4 separate regions of the Homo sapiens genome follow, and all the other regions are reported to be linked to region 2. The links are microRNA targets in miRTarBase. Many come from high-throughput screens and were not tested one by one. Region 2 holds a microRNA gene; each other region holds the end of a gene's coding sequence.
The links. The annotated mature microRNA hsa-miR-4471 reads UGGGAACUUAGUAGAGGUUUAA and lies in region 2 at 2,297-2,318, shown strand. An mRNA with a match to its seed (bases 2 to 7 or 8) in the 3' UTR can be bound and repressed. Matches are read on the target gene's strand: a 7mer-m8 pairs with bases 2 to 8, a 7mer-A1 pairs with bases 2 to 7 and ends in A, and an 8mer does both.

Region 1: the mRNA of SERTAD3 is a reported target of hsa-miR-4471. Seed matches in the 3' UTR shown: 7mer-A1 at 4,345-4,351 and 8mer at 4,170-4,177.
Region 3: miRTarBase lists SYVN1 as a target of hsa-miR-4471. Seed matches in the 3' UTR shown: 7mer-A1 at 4,315-4,321 and 7mer-A1 at 4,089-4,095.
Region 4: miRTarBase lists PISD as a target of hsa-miR-4471. Seed matches in the 3' UTR shown: 7mer-A1 at 4,353-4,359.

Annotation. Positions count from the first base shown.
Region 1 is chr19:40,437,022-40,442,171 of GRCh38, forward strand. It overlaps SERTAD3 (SERTA domain containing 3), which reads right to left. Exons shown (of 2, transcript NM_203344.3): 2 at 3,823-5,065. The coding sequence starts at 5,059. The coding sequence ends at 4,469. Among named protein-coding and RNA genes, the nearest start is that of SERTAD3, 4.7 kb to the right of the region's middle.
Region 2 is chr8:100,380,515-100,385,878 of GRCh38, forward strand. MIR4471 (microRNA 4471) reads left to right here and starts at 2,249; the gene lies at 2,249-2,331. LOC124901991 (a long non-coding RNA gene) reads left to right here. Exons shown (of 2, transcript XR_007061030.1): 2 at 1,132-1,410. RefSeq lists an enhancer at 2,060-2,159.
Region 3 is chr11:65,123,900-65,129,049 of GRCh38, forward strand. It overlaps SYVN1 (synoviolin 1), which reads right to left. Exons shown (of 16, transcript NM_172230.3): 15 at 4,664-4,815; 16 at 3,380-4,589. The coding sequence ends at 4,483. It overlaps MRPL49 (mitochondrial ribosomal protein L49), which reads left to right. Exons shown (of 4, transcript NM_004927.4): 2 at 603-753; 3 at 1,589-1,713; 4 at 1,827-3,472. The coding sequence ends at 1,973. Among named protein-coding and RNA genes, the nearest start is that of MIR6751, 3.5 kb to the right of the region's middle.
Region 4 is chr22:31,614,747-31,619,896 of GRCh38, forward strand. It overlaps PISD (phosphatidylserine decarboxylase), which reads right to left. Exons shown (of 8, transcript NM_001326411.2): 8 at 3,745-5,090. The coding sequence ends at 4,866. It overlaps SFI1 (SFI1 centrin binding protein), which reads left to right. Exons shown (of 33, transcript NM_001007467.3): 28 at 43-114; 29 at 302-533; 30 at 1,999-2,131; 31 at 2,254-2,332; 32 at 3,369-3,480; 33 at 3,568-3,842. The coding sequence ends at 3,672. Among named protein-coding and RNA genes, the nearest start is that of MIR7109, 4.2 kb to the right of the region's middle.

The DNA of each region.
Region 1 (5,150 bases), not on the chromosome of region 2:
ATCTGCCCGCCTCGGCCTCCCAAAGTGCTGGAATTACAGGTGTGAGCCACCGCACCCGGCCTTTTTTTTTTTTTTTTTTTTTTTTTGAGACAGGACCTCCCTCTGTTGCTCTGTTCCAGATGGAGTGCTGGAGTGCAGTGGTGTTATCTCTGCTCACAGCCTCCATTTCCTGAGCTCGAGCGATCCTCCCACCTCAGCCTCCTGAGTAGGTGGGACTACAAGGGCATGCCATCAGCCCAGCTAATTTTATTTTAGTTTTTTGTAGAGATGGGGTCTCCCTGTGTTGCCCAGGCTGGTCTTGAACTGGACACAAGCGATCTTCCTGCCTCAGCCTCCCAAAATGCTGGGATTACAGGCGTGAACCACTGCACCTGGCCAAGTTTTTCAACAACAAATAATTTTTTTTTTTTTTGAGATGGAGTTTCGCTCTTGTTGCCCAGGCTGGAGTGCAATGGCACGATCTCAGCTCACCACAACCTCCGCCTCCTGGGTTCAAGTGATTCTCCTGCCTCAGCCTCCTGAGTAGCTGGGATTATAGCCATGTGCCACTACGCCTGGCTAATTTTGTATTTTTAGTAGAGACAGGGTTTTTCCATGGTGGTCAGGCTGGTTTCGAACTCCTAGCCTCAGGTGATCCGACCGCCTTGGCCTCCCAAAGTGCTGGGATTATAGGCGTGAGCTACCGTGCCTGACCCTTCAACAACAAATAATTTTGGAGAGTGCAGTTGTGCCAAGCATAGTTCTAGGCACAGACCAACACAACCCTCAGAGTTCCCAGGAGAGTAGGAGGCTACCTATAGATGGGAAATAAGTAACTCGAGATTGGGTAGATGCTACTAAAACAAAATCAGTCCAGGTGCAGTGGCTCATGCCTGTAATCCCAGCACTTTGGGAGGCCGAGGCGGGCGGATCACCTGAGGTCAGGAGTTCAAGACCAGCCTGACCAATATGGAGAAACGTTGTCTCTACTGAAAATACAAAATCAGCTGGGTGTGGTGGCGCATGCCTGTAATCCCAGCTGTTCGAGAGGCTGAGGCAGGAGAATCACTTGAACCCAGGAGGCGGAGGTTGTGGTGAGCCAAGATCGCGTCATTGCACTCCAGCCTGGGCAACAAGAGTAAAACTCCGTGTCAAAAAAAAAAAAAAAAAATTAGCCAGGTGTGGTGGCATGTGCCTGTAATCCCAGCTACTCGGAAGGCTAAGGTAGAAGAATTGCTGGAACTGGGAGGTAGAGGCTGCAGTGAGCCAAGATCATGCCACTACACTCCATTCTAGGAGACAGAGCAAGACTCCATCTCAAAAAAAAAGAAAGAAAGAAAATCAAACAAGTTGTGGTGGGGTGGTGACCCACCTGGATGTGTTGAGCTAGGAAGGGCAAGGAAGACCTCCCTGAGAAGGGGATATTGGGATTGGTGAAGCTATTGGGGAAAATGTCCACTGGGAAAATTTAACAGTTAGGGCAAAGGCCCTGGGGTGAGAAGGAGCTGGGGTCAAGGGAGCCCAGTTGAGTGATGGAGAGAGTGGGAGATGGAACTGAGAAAGTTGTCCGAAGTGAGAATAAGTCAGTCCTTGCAGGTCTTGGTGGAGCTGGCGCTTTATTGAGTGTGTCAAGAAGTCACTGGAGGCTGGGCGTGGTGGCTCATGCCTGTAATCCCAGCACTTTGGGAGGCTGAGATGTGAGGATCGCTTGATTCCAGGAGTTCAAGACCAGCCTGGGCTACATGGCACAACCCCATCTCTACAAAAAATACAAAAATTAGTCAGGTGTGGTCCACGTGCCTGTAGTCCCAGCTACTTGGGAGGCTGAGGCTGAGGTGGGAGAATTGCTTGAGTCCATGAGGTGGAGGTTGCAGTAAGCTGTGATTGTACCACTGCACTCCAGCCTGGGCGACAGAGCCAGAGACCCTGTCTCAAAAGAAAAAAAAAAAAAAAAAGGCACTGAAGGTTTCAAGGAGGAAGACATGATTCAATTGCCATCATATTGGGATGCAGACCTGGTTGCTTACCTTTTATTTTTATTTTTTACAATTCCACAGCAAGTATCACACCTGGTTGCTTTTTTTTTTTTTTTTTTGAGATGGAATCTCGCTCTGTCACTCAGGCTGGAGTGCAGTGGTATGATCTCAGCTCACTGCAACCTGTGCCTCCTGGATTCAAGTGATTCTCCTGCCTCAGCCTCCTGAGTAGCTGGGACCACAGGTGTTTGCCACCATGCCCAGCTAATTTTTTGTATTTTTAGTAGAGACAGGGCTTCGCCATGTTGGCCAGGCTGGTCTCAAACTCCTCACTTCAGGCAATCCTCCCGCCTTGGCCTCCCTAAGTACTGGAATTACAGGCCTGAGCCACCGCGCCTGGCCTGTACCTGGTTGCTTTCTTTAGATCCTCTGGGCCACCTCATTCCTCTCTCTGGATTGGCACCCACCTCTTCAGGTTATCCCTCCACTTTCTGACAATGACCCCTTCAGGTTGAGAAATCTGGCTTTGACCCAGAAACCACAAGCAAAATCCCCATCCTTTCTCCACCCATGGACTATACTCAGGTGTTGTTCCTCCTCGCAGCCCTTCCAGAAAAGTCCCTAATGCTGTGTAGCTCACTTGCTTCATCTCTTCAAAGACCATTGTAAAGGCATAGCCTGTACAGGTATCACATTACCTCTTCCTTCACTTCCTTCACCTCCTTCTCCTCTCCTGTATCTCAGCAGCCTGGGCTCGTACCTCCGAAATAAAGCATCAGCACAGGTCAGGCACAGTGGCTCATGCCTGTAATCCCAGCACTTTGGGAGGCTGAGGCAGGCGGGTCACTTGAGGTTAGGAGTTGGAGACAAGCCTGGCCAACATGGTGAAACTGTCTCTATTTTAAAAAAAATACAAAAATTAGCTGGGCGTGGTGGCAAGCACCTGTAGTCACTGCTATTCGGGAGGCTGAGGCAGGAGAATTGCCTGAACCCGGGAGTGGAGGTTGCAGTGAGCCAAAATCCTGTCATTGCACTCCAGCCTGGGTGACAGAGTGAGACTCCGTCTCAAAAAAAAAAAAAAAAAAAAAGCATTAGCACTATAAATCTAATCTGGGCTCTGCTTCCTAGCCAACTCTCCTAAAGAGGTCTTTTAGTACTGGGGGTCTTTGGGCATTTTCTTGCCCCTCTGGGCTCAGCAGCACATTCAGTGACACATACTCCGTGTGACTCAGTTTCTCCCTCCTGTGCCCACCCACGTGGCTGGTTAGTCTAAGAAGCAACATTTATAATAGTGAAGGACAAGGCTCTGGAGGCCATTTCAGCCTAGCTCCCTGGTCCTTGTTCTTCCTAGCTGTGTGGCTCTGAATTAAGTGACTTGTCCTCTCTAAACTTCTGGTTCCTCCTGTATAAAAAGTGGTAACAGTACTTACTTCTATATGAGGATTAACAGACTTAATTCAAATAAAGTGGCTAGAACAGTGCTCTTAACAAGCACTAATTTTTTTCTGAGGCTGGAGTGCAGTGGTGTGACCATGGCTTACTGCAGCCTCAACCTCCCAGGCTCAGGTGATCCTCCCAACTCAGCCTCCCCAGTAACTGGGACTACAGGCCGCCATGCCTAGCTCCTTTTTGTATTTTTTGTAGAGGCAGTGTTTCGCCACATTTCCCAGGCTGGCCTCAAGCAGATCCTCCCAAAGTGCTAGGATTCCAAGTGGGAGCTAGAGCACTCAGCCAACAAGCACTCAATAAATGTCATGTACAATGATACACCTACCCCAGCTATGGCACGGAAGTGGTGCTGATGTTTAGGAACTTACCAGGTCCCTCCCACTGACCCAGTGAAGTTTAGAAACATTAGACAACATCCCTCCTTCCAAAATACTTTTATTTAAAAAAATTACAAACAATCCAAAAAAAAAAAAAAAAGCCACCACAAACTCTGCCTTTCTTTTAAATAACCCGGCATGGAGCAGTTTGGTTTCCACCCTATTGCACGTGGTCCGGCCTGGTTATGAAATCAGGAGGCTGCTGAGACTGGGGTCCTGCCGAGGAAGTGGGGTTCAGCCTGGAGGGAGGACACCAGCCCCTCCCACCCCCTCAAGGTGCAAGAGGCAGAGCCTGGGTTTCTATAGCAACCTGGCAGCACATCCCTGTCATCCTTCGACAGGCCCAGCTTTCTTTATCTTCCCTGAGGCCCCAGTGGTCACAGGGGAGTGGGAACTAGCAGGAAAGGTGGAAGAAATGTGTAAGTGGAAAATCAGACTCCCAGAAACAGAGTCTCGTTAAGGCATTTGGAATAGATAAATTAATTCAGGAAGACCCACCTTCACAGAAGGTCGGGGTAACCAGACACACACACACATGCAAGACAGTTTGTGGAACCCTGAAATGGGAACAAAGGAGGCCATAGTCACTGCTTCGAGCCCCCACAAAAACACACACCCAGAGTTGCATTCAGGGATCCAGGCCACCGAAGATGACATGAGGAAGGATCGATCCCCTCTATCACAGTTTTAGGACCCCAGAATGATTTCCATGATGTGATCCAGTTCATTCCACTCCCAAGAACCTGGGGCACAGAAGAGGTTGTGAGGAGGCTCTGGTGGGGCCCGTGCAGGCTCCTTTTCTACCGCAGATGTGTCAATGTCCAGAAAGAAGTCATCCAGGCCAGAGTCCCCCAAGTACCGGGAGCTCAGAGCTTCTAAGAAGACTGGATCAGGCTGGGGTGGCACTTCATTCTGGAGGCCAAGGGGAGTCACTGGATTCTGAGGGGGCTCAGTCCCATCCATGGAGGTGTCCAGCTCCCTGAGGATAGAGCCAATGGTGGCTGACAGGGAGAAATCCTCCTCGCCCAGGAAGAGGGGCTCGGGGGGCAGGGCAGGGGCGGGAGCCAGGCGAAGTGCAGCCTGCAGCTGTTGGAGGGTGTTATGGATGAGGACATGCCTGCGGAGGCTGGGTGCTCGGGGGCCCAGGCTGCGCTGGACTTTGTCTAGGGAGATGCGGAGCAGGGCTTGCTGGTAGCTCTGAAGGCCTGCTGGACTCCACTCCCACCTCTCCTCCTCCTCTTCCAAATCAGAGTGTTTCCTCTTCAAGCCTCCCACCATGATGCCCTGTAGAGAGAAGAGGCGCATAGGGGAAGGTCAGACACCAGACACCGTAGTGCTGGCTCATATCCCACTTTCTCAGGCCTATTGA
Region 2 (5,364 bases):
GTAAATATAGTGATTTTTATATAAAAATGAGAACAATTGCTTTTCTTGTTTGATTAGTGTTCAATCAACTTACAAACTTAAAAACATTAAATTTCTTCAAACTGACCATCTTTATACATGTAAAAAGATTTCCTAAAATATTTTTAACTATCTTTACAAATTTAATAACTTTGACTTTCTCAAACACTTCAAATGCCTGATGGGGCAACATTTACAAACAAAGCAAGAAAAATCCTTCAATATCTCAATGAACTCTTGTAATAATACTAGTTTATACATGTAGTAAATTAGATTCTTCTGAATATTCAAACACTTTTAAAGAACATATTCAATTATTCTGCAACTTTCAAGTGAAAATTACAAATTGAGTATTAGTTTATCATTCCAAAATAAAATCGTAAGGCTAATATGTCAGATTATCTTAATCATTTTAAGCTGCTTAAATAACAAAAACAAGCTGATTGCAATGATTACAAAACTTACTCCTAAAGCTTAACACAAAGTATTGATACTATGAGTTTGATTGGCTTCAACGTCCATTTTCTACACCTTTTCCATTGAAACAAAGTTATTTTTACAAGTCAAGGGGAGCAAGAAGGTATTTCATGCAGGCTGGAGTTATTTGTATAACTGAGATACTGATGATCAGTTAGATTGTAAAACTGGGAGTTTTTCCAGGATGGTTTTATCCGAGCAACAGATTAAACACACTGAGCTTCCTTTTATAGTTGGCTTGGTTCTGCCTACTGTGTCACCAGGGAAGGAGTGTGCTATGTGTCCCCAGAGCATTTTTCAAATTTCACCCTCATCCTATTTTTATCATAACTTCTTTCACAATTTAACACATAATTTGGGTAGGTAGAATTCTGCAGACTACCTTGGCATGTAGTCTATCTTTTTGTTAACTGAATTTTCTCTCCCTCCTCAGGTTGTAAAATTCTTTTTCTTTTGCCTTCTTATCTGTTTCATTGTTGCAGAGATTGACTAAGTCTTCATCAAATCTGTTTTTCTTTGCTTCTTGGGCACAGAGCTAGACTCCATTTCCCAGCTTCCCTTGCAGTGAGTGTGGCCATGTGACTGAATTTGGGCCAATGAAATATGAGTGGCCTGACCCCCTATCCTCTTTTGCAGGCTTGATGCAGGGCAGCAGGGCAATCTTGGAAGCTCCATATTGAAGATGGTGGAGGCACAGTTTGAAAGGAGTCTGGGTTGGAGGAGAGCTACAGGCAGATCAGGAACACCCATCTTGGATTTGACCTGAGTGAAAAATAAACTGCAATCATTATGTTAAAACACTTACATATTTGGGGGGATTTTTTGTTTATCTTGTGAAAATGCTCATTAACCTCTATTGTCATAATAAAAATCCTTAAAGTTGGTGCTAAAAATAAATGCAATTTTGAAAATTCATGTGATGTTAGTTACTACTGCATATCCTGAGTCAACGCTAGAAAACATCAAGTGAAGCAGAGGGTGTATTATGGGACAGAGTCACTCTTGGATGTTACATAAAAATCTGACTGAATTAACTCAATCTTTTTTAATAGGAACTAATGTCATGTGACTTGTGTACCTTTTTAAATAACTTTTTTAAAAAGCAACCAAGAAAACAAAAATAAGCAGCCCATTGACAATTAAATCACCTACAATATTCATGAGATTAAAATAAACCTGTTGCTCAGTTACAAATATTTGGGCTCCCATGAGCAGACAGAAATTTTCCCCCAAGGGTCCTAATAAACAGGAAATTACATGATACAATAGACTCATATCCTTAGTAGACAAAACAATGTCAACTACCCAGACTCTCCTAAAGAAACCACACACACATGTTCAAGGGAGTAATTAAAAAAATTTAAAAACATAGGTTTCTTTTTTCTTCTAAAAAGTATACTTTTCTTTAAAATGGTAAGGGTGTATTAGTGCGATGAAGATCAATAAGGCCTCCATTTTTTTTTCTAGTTTGGTTATTTCACACTCTGCTTTTGGCATTTGAGGTTGCTAAGGTTATGGGTTTCTAAAAGTATTGTCCTTATGCACAAACGGACCTGTCATCAAACAGCTTTTGACCCTATGCAGTCAGAGTTTCCCTTTCCTTCTCCCACACCAACTAATTCTGCCATGTGTGGGTTGCAAGTGCACCAGGCAACAGTTTAATCTAAATGAAGTGATCACACATTAGATTTTGAAAATGAAACTTACTCATAAATATATTTCTTTCAAAATGAATTTTGTAAATCTTTTCCTTCCAAATTTAAAACTTAAACCTCTACTAAGTTTCCATGAAAAGAACCCATGGGAACTTAGTAGAGGTTTAAGTTTTAAATTTGAAGGGAAAAGAGTTATAAAATTCATTTTGAAAGAAATATATTTATGAGTAAGTTTCATTTTCAAAATCTAATGGTGCATGCCTGTAATCCCAGCTACTCAGGAGGCTGAGGCAGGAGAATTGCTTGAACCTGGGAGGTGGAGGTTGCAGTGAGCCGAGATCACGCCACTGCACTCCAGCCTGGGAGACAGAGTGAGACTCCATCTCAGAAAAAAAAATAAAAATGAAAAACCATGGGAACAATAAATACAGACTTTAGGCAGTGCTGAAATATACGGGAGAGAGACAAAGAGGACATGGTGGATATTTAGGTAGACGTATTAGAGTAAATACTAGTAAAGCAAAATTCTTTCCATGAACTATATCTGTTAGCAAAACTCTGACTAAAAGTAAATTCCACAAATAGGGGTTTATGTTTCTCAAACAACATGAAGGTTAAAAGTACAACAATGGTGCTGATTCATCAGCTCAGTGATGTGATGCCAGAGCTAACAATTTGACAGTTCTCTTGGCCTTTCCTTATCATAACAAGATGACTGCCTCAAGAAGGCTGCTGTGGCTCCAGGCATCACACCACTTTCAAGGAAGAGGAGAAGAAGGGGGTCACACTGGGAATATTTCCCCCTTTTATCAGAAAAGTAAAAGCTTTGTATGTGTAACTATGTCATATGTTTTTCCTAGCTGCAAGAGAGGCTGAAAAAAGCATTTTAGAATTGGAGGTAGGCAAGTGGCAATGAGAAGGTATATCAGCCCAACAACAGTGGGTGCCACTGAGTGCATGGCTGGCAGTACTCATGCTTTGTTGATCTCATTATAATGAATTCTTGAAGCCAGATAATGTACACAACACAGCATGCTTTCTCAGCCCACGTTCATATAAGAATCATGTAGAACTTCATGTTTTAGAGGAAAATAATGCTGAACATTCCCATTAATTATGTCTTGCCATCAAGTAAGTAGTGACTATCCTTCAGGCCATCTCCTCCCTCCCTATCTCAAACACTCAAATATTCACAATTAAATTCTACTTAAACTCTCCAAGAAAACCCACCAAATTACCCATGAACTTGGACGAGGAAAATCCTCCTGGTTCCTGAACATCACATCTATTCCAAAGAAGAATCTTCAAAGTCAGCTAGCAAAGAAATTGTAGAAAGTAACACATATAAAAAAGAAAATTGATCAGGCACAGTGTCTCACTCCTGTAATTCCAATGCTGGTGGAGGCCAAGGTGGGAGGATCACTTGAGGCCAGGAGTTCCAGACCAGCCTGGGCAACATAATGAGATCCTGTCACTGTGAACATTTTTTTGAAAAACCAAAACTTAGCTGTGCATGGTGACATGCCCTGGTAGTCCTAGCTACTTGGGAGGCTGAGGTAAGAGGATCAATTGGGCCCAGGAGTTTGAGGTTACAGTGAGCTATGATTGTGCCACAGCACTTCAGCCTGGGTGACAGAGAGAGACCCTATATCTAAAAAAAAAAAAAAAAAAAAAAAAAAGCAAGAAATAAAATTACACAAAAATTTTGAATGCCCAGTGTAACTTCCTAAAAGAGATCAGTGCTTTGAAACATGAAGTGATCTTTCTTACCCCTTTATACGGTGATAAATCATAGCATATCTAGAATGAGTCCAGCTGGATCACTGCTTTACCCATTATAAAGCCTCCATATTTGGGGACATTTTATAAAACAAGGAAAGCACAGCAACTTCCTGCTGAAATAGAGCAGTGGCCCACCCTCCCCACATGACCCACCGCCAGGCTTCCCCAGGCTCTGCAGCAAGGCAGCACATTATATTTAGCCATAGCTTAAATGGGTCTGGTTTACCTCTGATTCCAAGCGGCATGTGCAACAGGGTATGCTCCAAAGTGAACCGTGCTTCAGAAGAGTGGGTTTGGTTATCACAGGCTACATTCAGTTGCAATTAGCAGAATGTCTAGCAGAATTTCTCCTCTGTGATACGTGTTTATATTTAAGCAAAAGCACCAGTTACAGAGTGGCCACTGGTACCATGACATCTCTGAGTTATATCACTATTAAAGACCTGACCAGGGGTCATAGTATCCCAGCTGAGTCTGAAAGCAGGGCCCCCTGTTATGGGGCCTCTCCCACTAAAGAGGGAAAAGGGAGCCTGTACGGGGCAAAACATTTGGGCCACGTGGTGAGTTCGTACAATGAAGCCTCCTAGACCTGTGTGCTCCCCAGCTCAGATATGCCTAAGCTCTACTTCCAGGAGGAAACCTTAGGAGGGAAAGACTCTTATCTCTCAGCCTGGAATCTACTTTAAAAAGCCCACATATGTCACCATAAAAGGGGATGAAGTACTGATATATGCTACAATATGGATGAATGTTGAAAACACTATGCTAAGTGATAGAAGCCAGACACACAAGGTCATGTTATTGTATGATACCATTTGTATGAAATGTCCTCAGTAAGGAGATCTAACAGAAAGTGGATTAGTGGCTGCCAGGAACTGGAGGAAGGTGAGAATGGAGAATAACTGCTAATAGCTATGGGCTCCTTTTTTTTTCTTAATACTTGGTGTATTTTGAATGTTTACATTTAACAAATGAAAACTATTAGCAAAAATGATTCAATAATATTTTACTATTTACAAGGTACCTACAGGGATTCCTTTCCCAATTTTTTTCATTGTGGTATTTACCAAAATTATTTTTATTGTGGTAAAATACACATAACATACAATTTACTAACTTAACCATTTAAGTAGACACTTCAGTGGTATTAAATACCTTTATAATGTATGTAGCCATCTCCACCTGCCATCTCCGTGTCTCTTTTCTTCTTAGAAATTGAAATTCTGTGTCCATTAAACAGTAACTCCCCATTCTTCCCTCCCCACAGCCCCTGGCAACCACAATTCAACTTTCTGTCTCACTGACTTTGACAACTCCCCTCATATAAGGAGAATCCTACGGTATATATTTATCCTTTTGTGGCTGGCTTATTTCACTTAGCATACTGGTTTCTTTTTGGAGTGAAGAAAATGTTCTGGAATTAGAAAGTGGT
Region 3 (5,150 bases), not on the chromosome of region 2:
TGTTTGAGAGAGTCTCGTCGCTCTGTCACCGAGGCTGGAGTGCAATGGTGCGATCTTAGCTCACTGCAACCTCCACCTCCTGGGTTCAAGCAATTCTCCTGCCTCAGCCTCCCAAGTAGCTGGGATTACAGGCATGCACCACCATGCCCGGCTAATTTTTGTATTTTCAGTAGAGATGGGGTTTCGCCATGTTGGCCAGGCTGGTGTTGAACTCCTGACCTTAGATGATCCTCCTGCCTCAGCCTCCAAGGTGCTGGGATTACAGGCGTGAGCCACCTTGCCCAGCCAGAAATATTTTTTTGTGTAAGGTTGAAGTGGCCTTTGTGCAAGGCTGTGGTTTTTGCAGTCTTTTGTGGTAGTTCTTGTTATTAAGTATTTGTGCCCAAGAACTCTCTCTTCGTGGCCCTCCCTAGCTCTATTTGTTGGGATTTTTAACCCAAGTGACTCACTCCATTTTGATTCTGATAGCTTTCACACCGTCGCCCAGCCTTTTATTTATGTCATTCTCTCTGCCTGTAATGTTTCCATTCTCTACTTACTGAAGTTATGCCATCCTGTGTTGGGTAGGCTAATGGAGAAATGGGATTTTTGTTTTGCTTCAGAGCCAGACCCAGGGCCCTCCAGATTACCCCAGGTTTGTGGAGTCTGTGGATGAATATCAGTTTGTGGAGCGCCTGTTACCGGCTACCAGGATCCCAGATCCCCCAAAGCATGAACATTATCCTACCCCTAGTGGCTGGCAGCCTCCCAGAGGTGAGCTGGGTGGTTAGGGATGATTTGAAAGCTTCACGGAGCATCACCTCCTCCCCAGAGGTTGGCCTCCCCCATGAGGCTCTGGACTCTCCAGTGGGTTCAGGACTCATTTTGCAATCCCTCTGGGTTACATCTGTCTCATGCCCAAGGAAGAGCCGAGGAGTGGAGCCTTCTGTTGTTCACTGGTACTCATCCATCCACACTATTGAGATCAGGTCTTCCCCATATGGGGGAAAGTAAACAACAGAGAGAAAACCCAAGAGCTTGGACCTTCTTTCCCCCCAGCAGACTATGTACTGTAATTAAGAACACAGCTTGGAGTCAGGCAGTTCTGGGTTTGAATTTGGCTTTATTTACTGTTGATGTTATCTTGAATTAGTCACTTAGCTTGACCCAACCTGTTTTAGCAAAATGGAGATAATCTGCTCAGTACATAGAGCCCTTAGTGCAGAGCCCAGCATATGGTAGGTGCTCAGTGCTTGCAAATCCCAATCTCTTTGTTCCAGAGATTGATTTCGGCCTCCCTGACCCAGTGGAGGAGGGCAAGGGTTGGCCTAGAGGGGGACCCAAAGATCCAGGGAGGCATGTCCCTGATTTCATTTTTTCTTGAGCACCTACTTAGTGCCAGGCCCTGTGTGGGGCCTTAGGGTACCAGGGTGAACAATTTGGTCCTGACTCCAAGCTGAAGGAAAGAGGAGACCCCCTGACCTAAAGTCTGGAGGTGGCTTGGTCCAGCTGGGTGCACTGGCCCTCTGCAGACTGAGAGCAAGGGCCTTGGCTGAGGTGGGATGGCACGTAGGAAGAGTTGATTTAACAGTGTCTTTCCCTGTTGCAGACCCCCCACCCAACCTGCCTTACTTTGTACGACGCTCTCGGATGCACAACATCCCCGTCTACAAGGACATCACGCATGGCAACCGGCAGATGACTGTGATCCGGAAAGTGGAAGGGGACATCTGGGTAAGTGGGTGGGTGGGTCTGGGACTGGGCCTGACCCTTTCAGGGCTGAAGGGACAGGAGTCTTTTTAAGGGAAGGGACTCTTGGCCTGACCTGATTTGTCATCTTTCCCCAGGCCCTGCAGAAAGACGTGGAAGATTTTCTGAGCCCGCTGCTGGGGAAGACACCTGTCACCCAGGTCAATGAGGTGACAGGTACCCTACGGATCAAGGGCTACTTTGACCAGGAGCTTAAAGCCTGGCTCTTGGAGAAAGGCTTCTGAGGCCCAGCCGAGCAGCCTGCTTGTCAGCATGCCCTGTGGATCAAGTCTAGGGGGCCTCAGGAGGAGGGAGGTGGGTGTTGGAGCCCCTGAGACAGGGGATACAGAAACTAGGGCTAAAGGACTTTGGGGTCAGGCCTTGCTTGCATAAAGGAGAAAACAACTCTATGTACATGCTGGGGGAGAGTGCCTAATGTGGGAGACCAAATAGGGATCACCAGGCTAATGGGGGGCGTCAGCAGCTTTCTCTCCCTCCTATCTTGGCCTGTTCTTTTTTGTTTTTTGAGACGGAGTCTCACTCTGTTGCCCAGGGTGGAGTGCAGTGGCATGATCTTGGCTCACTGCAACTTCCACCTCTGGGATCAAGGGATTCTCCTGCCTCAGCCTCTTGAGTAGCTGGGATTACAGGCGCCCACCACCACAGCCTGCTAATTTTTGTATTTTTAGTAGAGATGGGGTTTCACCATGTTGGCCAGGCTGGTCTCAAACTCCTGACTCGAAGTGATCCGCCCACCTTGGCCTCCCAAAGCGTTGGGATTATAGGCATGAGCCATGTGCCTGGTCCACCTTGGCCTGTTTTGTTTTTCTTTCCTTGGGCTCAGCAATTCAAATTCTAGTTGTTATTTGGTGGAAGCAGTAGCCCAACCCCAGTTTAGGGGAAGGTAGCACAGGGCAGAGCCACTGGGCACTTTGTTTCCTTGGCCCTCCGAAGCTCACTGTTGCAAATACCCCCAAGCCTTTGCTCTAGGCCAGATCTTGTTTGGTGCAGGTGATGGAGAACACAGATGACTCGGGCATGGGTCTTGGAGATCTTCTGTTCAAAGTACAGTGCTGGCACTGGGGCACAGAGTGCCCACGTTAGCCCCGGGCTCTGATAGAGAGGTAGGAGGCACGTTCTTGGTCACTGTTCCATTGCAGACCAGACTTGCTGGCCTGACCACAAGGGAGTGGCTGGGAACTCACAGCCAGCATAGGGACATCCCCCTGCAGCCTTCTGACCTGCAATCAAGGCTGGGGAGGGGTTTGCAGGCAGGAATATGCTGACCTTTCACCCTGCCATCCCATCCCAACCCCAGCTCACTAGCCTTCATATATGCCTTATACTTGGAGTCACAGGGGCCAAAGGCCTGAGACCCCACCCTGCCCCCAAACTGGCTAAGACAGCTTTCAGTTCCTGACTCCCCAACTTGGTCTCTGCCCTGAAGCAGGGCACTGAACTCTGGGCTGCTTCTCTGTGTGTAAAATGGGCACATCTTCCTAATCTGTTAATGGTCAGTGGTGTCCCCAAGGATAGTGCTGGCTTCCATGGAAACCCTCACTCCTGGAGATTCCATTCCATTTTCAAGTGTACAGCCACAGCAAGGAGCCCGACACTGATTTGATCGATTCTGTGACACAAACCCCACCAATTGTTAATGCAAGTTTTTATTTGGCTGTATATACAATTTAAGCTATTAAAATTTGTACAATATTTACAAATTAAATAATCATCTGAAACTGTCTCCAACAACTCTTGTAACACAAAACCAAGGGGAAAAGACAGGGGCAGGCAGGTCCCAGCTCCTGTGGTCCCTCCTTGGCACAGAGCCTTTTCTAAACTGGAAAGACCAGGAGTCTGGCACTCCTGTTCCTCTTTCCCGGGATTAAGCATTCAACTTCAAAAGACAAAATTTAAGCCAAAAGACACTAGTAAGGAAGTAATTCCAATTCTAAACTTCAGAAGTTCTGCCAGTTGAGAAGTGGCCTTCCTTGGGCGCTGGGATTGCAGTGGTCAGGAGCAGGCGCACTGGCCCTTGCCTGGAGTGCGGCTGGGCAGTGGCTGCTGGGTGAGACAGGTCAGTCTCACTTGAGAAGCTGCAGAGGAAAGGGGCCTGGGGGGAGGGGCGGGGCAGGGTCCCTCAGTGCTGCCCGCCTGCACCCCCACTCCCAGGCATTCCTTTCCCTGAGTTGTGTGGTTGCCAGTAAGACGCAGAAATGCCACAGGGCATAGGGGGCACAGCCACCACCACAAGAGGCTTCTGGGGAGATCAGGGTAAGAAAAGGAAATGGGTACCAGTCTTAGGGGTGGGCCAGCGAGCAAGTTCATAGCTTGCCTCCAGCCCCTCTGGAGTCCACACTTGGGAACGGGAGCTAATACTGTTCGGCACTGCAGTGTGACTCCGCACATACAAGTAGGGCTTGGAGGGGCAGCCCCTTCTCCTGGAAAGGGGTGGGGGAAGAAGAGGGCTTCTCAGAGGCTAAACCTTCTGCCTTCATGGCCCCAGCAGAACACAGGGCTGAAGAGTTGGAGAGGAAGGCTGGAACTGACCCGAGATCCCCATGGCTGCCTGGGACTGGAGTCAAATGGGAACCCCAGCCTCTTTCCACTTGGCCTAGGGGATGCCGCCTCTTTCTCAGAGCTGGGGGTACTACTCCCTGGTGCAGACAGAGAGGGAGCTGGCACTTGGTGGCAGGACATGTTCCAGCGAGGGCTGCTCAAAAGAGCAGAGGCTGGGGCTGGGCTGGGGCAGTGTCAGTGGGCAACAGGAGACTCCAGCTTCTGCAGGCGGCGCCGGCGGAGCTCTGCTGCATCGGGCTCTCCATCCTCAGGCATCTCCTCTGTGCCCACTGACTCAGGAGCTGGGGACAGAGAGACTGGAAGTGGAACCTAGAGAAGTTCCCTGCTCCCCCGGCTGGAGGCCAATCACACCTACCTGGAGGCCTTTCCATTTCAGGGGCTGGTGGGGAGGCTCCTGGGGTTGGGGTCGTGGCCTCTGAGCTAGGGATGCTGGTGGAGGAGGCAGCAGCAACAACTGTAGTGGCAGTCTCCTCAGTGGAGTTGACTGAAGTGGCAGGCCGGGGGGGCCTGGGAAGAGAAGGGACGAGAGGCGGGCCTGGCCTTGGCATCCAAGGTTGGGCAGATTCTCCTGCCCTTGGTGAGCCTTGCAGAACAGAGTATAGAATGATGTGCCCTTGTGGCCCCAGTGCCTGGCAAACACAAGTGAACATGCTGAATGAACTCAGACAGGGTGACTGGACTCAAGGGCCAAATGATTCTATCCCTTAGCTGTAAGGTGCTTGCAGGCAGGGACTGTTGACCTGTTCACTCTTACCCTGCAGTCTCCACCCTGGGGAGTCAGGCACCTTATAGGGGACTCACTCAATAAGCCACAGTGCTCGAGCCTTGGACTCAAGTTCCTC
Region 4 (5,150 bases), not on the chromosome of region 2:
CCCTGGTCAGCCCAGGGGAACAGACCCCATGTTTCTTTCCAGCAACACTGCCCACTCAGCGAGGAAGCAGCCGCGACGCCCACACTTCCTGTTGGAGCCTGCGCAGAGCCAGAGGTCCCTGGGGTGCAGCACCGTGGGCAGGCAGGGGGAGATGGTCAGGGGTCCCCAAAGGCAGCGGGCACCTCCATGTGGGGCCTGTGTTTTGGCAGCCCTGGGGTGGGTGGCCCCCTTTCCTTCTTGTTCTTTGGTCCCAGAGGAGGGTCCTGTGGCCTGACCAGGCTCTTGCCTTCCCTGTGCTCAGGCCTCAGAAGCCACAGGAACATGGCCTAGGCATGGCTCAGCCAGCAGCCCCCTCCCTGACGCGGCCCTTCCTGGCAGAGGCCCCGACAGCACTGGTCCCACACAGCCCCCTGCCTGGGGCCCTGTCAAGCGCCCCTGGCCCGAAGCAGCCCCCGACGGCAAGCACAGGCCCGGAGCTGCTGCTGCTGCCTCTTTCCTCCTTCATGCCCTGCGGGGCGGCTGCACCAGCCAGGGTACGTCCTCCACCACCAGGCCTGGGCACTGGGGCTCTCACTCTGGTCTGACTTCTGGTGCTTTCTCATGCCACAGCTGTACTAGTTTCTGGAAAACCTTGGCACAGGGAGGCCACTCATCCATTTGACAAGCATAGGTAGCCACTGCACACCAGGTCCAAGGGCCACAGCAGTGAACAGCCAGCCAAGGGCCCTGCCATCCTGAAGCTTATATTCTAGTCAGAGACAAGCAAAGAAAAACCCCTGCCTGCAGGCCAGTAAAGTGGCTGCAGATCACGTAGGGTCCTGCAGGCCACAGTGAGAAGTAGCCTGGGATTTGAGAAGAGTAGGAAGTCGGGGAAGGGTTTTGGCAGGGAGCACCATGTCAGGTTTCTGTGCAGGCTGTGGTCACCATGACCACGTGGTCCAGGCAAGTAGTACTGGTGGCCTGGGCTCAGCGGTTGCCACAGAGGGGACAGGTACTCTCTTGGAGGCAGATGAGGCAGGATATGCTGCTCTGAGGGAGTTGCTGAATGAGGGGAAAGAAGGAATCCAGGCTGATGTGGGCTGCTGGCTTGAATAACTTGGGAAACAGAGTTCTTTGACTGGAAGAAGGAACTGGGGGTGGGGACTGGTTTGGGGTGAAGTGTCAAGAGTGTTTTGAACCAGGCTCTTGATGTCAAATTTGAGAGAAAGCAAACGTTGAGTCTGACCTTCAAGGAAGAGGTCAGGGCCAGAGATTGAGAAGAATCTTCAGCACAGGCCGAAGGTAACCCCAGAGCCACTGCGGCCTCTAGGAGGAGAGTACAGGGGAAGGAGAGAGGGGAGGAGGCTCCAAGCAGGGAGCCTGGGTGGGGATGGCCAGGGGGTGTGAGAGCTCAGTAATGGAAGTGACAGCTGCTCTAAGGCCACCAAAGCAGCTGGTTCCTGAAAGGGGATGAGGGGACAGGAAGGAACCAGTTCCTGTGGTGAGTTAGGCCATGTGGGGCCACTTACCCTGGCTGGAATGGTTTGAATGTGGGTTTGAAAGGGTTTTGACCCCTGTCCGGTGATGGAAGGGGCAAGTCCACTCTCACCAGGAGAGGAGGGCATGGAAAAGGCTGTAGAGCAGTGGCCTCTCACTGACCACTTCTCACTGATGTCAAAGCTCAGCAAGGTCATGAGCTTAGAGCAGGTGGGGGTGGAGGGTTGGGTAAGGCAAGGCTAGGAACAGCTGCTCAGGCAGTGGAGGCGTGAGGCGGACTGTGGTGACACGGGGTGCTCCCTGGTTGCTTGCGGGACTTTCCCCTACAGTACCAGGCCCTGTGTGCAGGGGCAGGCTAGACACTGAGCTGGCACGGCCAGTGCCTGGGAAGCCCAGCTCCTGCAGCTGGGAGCCTGGTCTTCCCCCACCCCTGCAGGGCAGGCAGTGACAAGGACTTGGTGTCCCCCTCCCTGGCTTCCTCCTAGCTTCCTTGCTCAGCATCTACCCTTCTTTCCTTTGCAGGTGTCAGCACAGCGGGCTACTCCTAGGGATAAGCCCCCGGTCCCCTCATCCCTGGCCAGTGTCCCTGACCCCCATCTACTCCTTCCTGGGGACTTCTCAGCCACCAGGGCTGGGCCTGGACTTTCAACTGCAGGTGTGTACCTGGGGCCTGTCAGGGCAGAAAGCACTCAGGCCACTCCCGGACCTGGGACTTGCTATTTACCCTGGTCCCCGAGGGGAAAATAGTCTGAAACAAGCTTACTTCTGTCGCCATAGGCAGCCTGGACCTTGAGGCTGAACTTGAGGAGATCCAGCAGCAACTACTGCACTACCAGACCACCAAGCAGAACCTCTGGTGAGCCCTGCGAAACGCCCTGCAGCCCTGGCTACAGGAGCAGGTGTTGCCTGGAGAGGTGGGCAGGCAGTTCCATTTCCCCCGAGCCAGCTGCCAGGGTCCTGTAGGTGGTCTCGGTCTAGCCATGGAGGGGTGTGGGGAGCCCTCAGTGTGTGCTGTCCAGAAAGACCCCATCTCCACCATGGCTCTCTACCCGGCTCAGTGCTGCTTAGGAAGGCCCAAGTCGTCAGACTCACCTGTGCACAGAGGCTCTGCTTCCTATGGGGGGGACGATAAAGTTGAGCAAAACTCTAAAAACCCGATGAGGCCATGCTGTCCCCAGTGACTAATTATAACACTGATATTAAAGGTGCAGAGAAGGGCCAGGCGCAGTGACTCACACCTGTCATCCCAGCACTTTGAGAGGCTGTGATCCAGGCAGATCACGGGGTTAGGAGTTCAAGACCAGCCTGGCCAATATGGTGAAACCCCATCTCTACTAAAAATACAAAAATTAGCCGGGCATGGTGGTGCACGCATGTAGTCCCAACTACTTGGAAGGCTGAGGCAGAAGAATCGCTTCAACCTGGGAGGCGGAGGTTGCAGTGAGCTGAGATCACGCCATTGCACTCCAGCCTGGGCAACACAGCAACACTCCATCTCAAAAAAAAAAAAAAATGCAGAGGAGACAGGCCCGTGACTCAGCTGCACTCAGTGGTCTGGGGACCATTCAACATGCAGCAACCTCAGAGCTTCCAGGGCAACAGACTGGCGCCTCATCCTTGGCTCTGCACAGGGGGAGAGAGACAAGGAGTGTGTTCTTGCCCAGGCCCACCTGAGTTGCTGTCTGCTGGGGAGGGCGGAGGAGACTGGGAGAGGAAAAAGAACAAGTGTTTGGCTCCCAAGCAGGGGCCTGCAGTTCAGGTCAGGGGCCCTACCAGACCACCTCTCTCCACCCGATACCCGCATCAGAATTAGCTGAGGTGCCTCTCCCTGAGCCGGATGGGGCTCTGCCAAGGACCCAGCCTGGCAGGCAGTGGGTATCTCCACCCCTCAGGTCCTGTCGGCGGCAAGCGAGCAGCCTGCGCAGGTGGCTGGAGCTGAACAGAGAGGAGCCGGGGCCTGAGGACCAGGAAGTAGAGCAGCAGGTGCAGAAAGAGCTGGAACAGGTGAGGCCCCAGGCCATCCCCAGGTGTCCCTGGGGACGCCCCGGGCTGTGCTCCCTCTCAGCCCTGCCTGTCCCTCCATGGCCCCAGGTGGAAATGCAGATCCAGCTGCTGGCAGAGGAGCTCCAGGCTCAGCGCCAGCCCATTGGCGCCTGCGTTGCCCGCATCCAGGCCCTGCGGCAGGCCCTGTGCTAGCGTGTTCGCACCAGGAACGCAGGTGCTGGGCTGTCGGGGAGGCCTCAGGCCACCTCCAGGAACAGAACACAGTTTTAAGTTTGATTTTTTTTATTTCAAAATGCTTTGCAATTAAATGAATTACTGTTCAGAAGTCTCCCACTTTTCATACAAAAATACTGTGCTACTGATACAGTTGAAAAAATTCAATGATGTCTCTCCTGCAGGAGAAATTCACAGCATCCCCAGGGTCAACATGAAATCTGGCCCTGTCCCCGCCACTGGGGGCTCCCCAGGCCTGCGTTCCTGATAAACTGGGACAGGTTTTCCAGGCACTGACCAACTATCCACCAAGGGTCCTCTGCCTCCAAGACAGACCCTGAATCAATAGCAGCAACTTTCCCATATTTCATGTAGGGATATGTGGAGGGGGACAGGAACTCTCCCATTTCCCCAGCTGGGCCTACTACCTGCCTGCCCTGTTCACTCTGGTGCCATGAGGCAGGTTCAGTGATTGATTGGTCTTGCCTGCTGCAGAGGACCTGGCCAGCTCCAGAAGGGTCACTCATCAGGTCCTGCAAAGGTCTGTATCATTAATCAGTGTCATCAGTGTCCTCAGAAGACACTAGCAGAGTCCAGGGTGATGCGTTCAGCCACAAGCACAAAGACTGCTTTTTCTAAAGAGCAGGATGAGGTGAATGTGGGAACGGAAAGCAGTTGTCACGAAGGCTGTGTGGCTCTGCTGGGGGAGAGGCATCCACAGTCTGTGCCAAGGAGGCACCTCACCCTGTGCAGCAGGAGCGTTAAGGCCAAAAAACAAAAGGGGCCAACAGAAAACAGCTCAGGTGATGGGGGGAGGAGCAGCAAGAAAAAACGACAACCGAGACCAACTGAAGGTTCGGTCAGGAATGCAGGCTCTTCCGTCTATACAGTGTTTAAAAAGATCCAAATGTGACTGAGATCATTCCAGCCTGCACTTTTTATTTGTAGGCAGAAGGAACGGGATAGGTTGAGGGGCATGATGGGGGCTCTCGCCACCTCTTGTCTGCACCTCTGGAACAGGTGGTAGCCGAATCATTCAAGTCCTACCTGGTCAGACTCCCAACCACGCTGAGGCAGGCCCTTACCTGGATGGCCTCATGGGCCTCCCTCTTGAAAAGACCCTCACTCTGTTTGGAAAAGATCCCTTAGCAGCCATAATCAGGAAAGAGACTCTAGAGCGAGCCCAGGGCTTCCCCAAAGCGGATTTTCTGTCCTGTTTTCAGCTGGAAATTGAAGTCCTTGGGGGCCTCGAAGATGAGCACGATGGTGGAGCCCAGGTTGAACTCGCCCAGGTGCTCGCCCTTACGCATGGGGACGCCCTCTCTATTGGTGTGCGTCACGAAGCTGAAGTCATTGTAGGAGCCCTTGCTGTGCCTTGGGCTGTTTGTGTGCAGGTCCTGTGGTGATAGGCTGGGGGTCAGTGGGGCCCAGGCCACCAAGTGCACAGTGTCACCCCC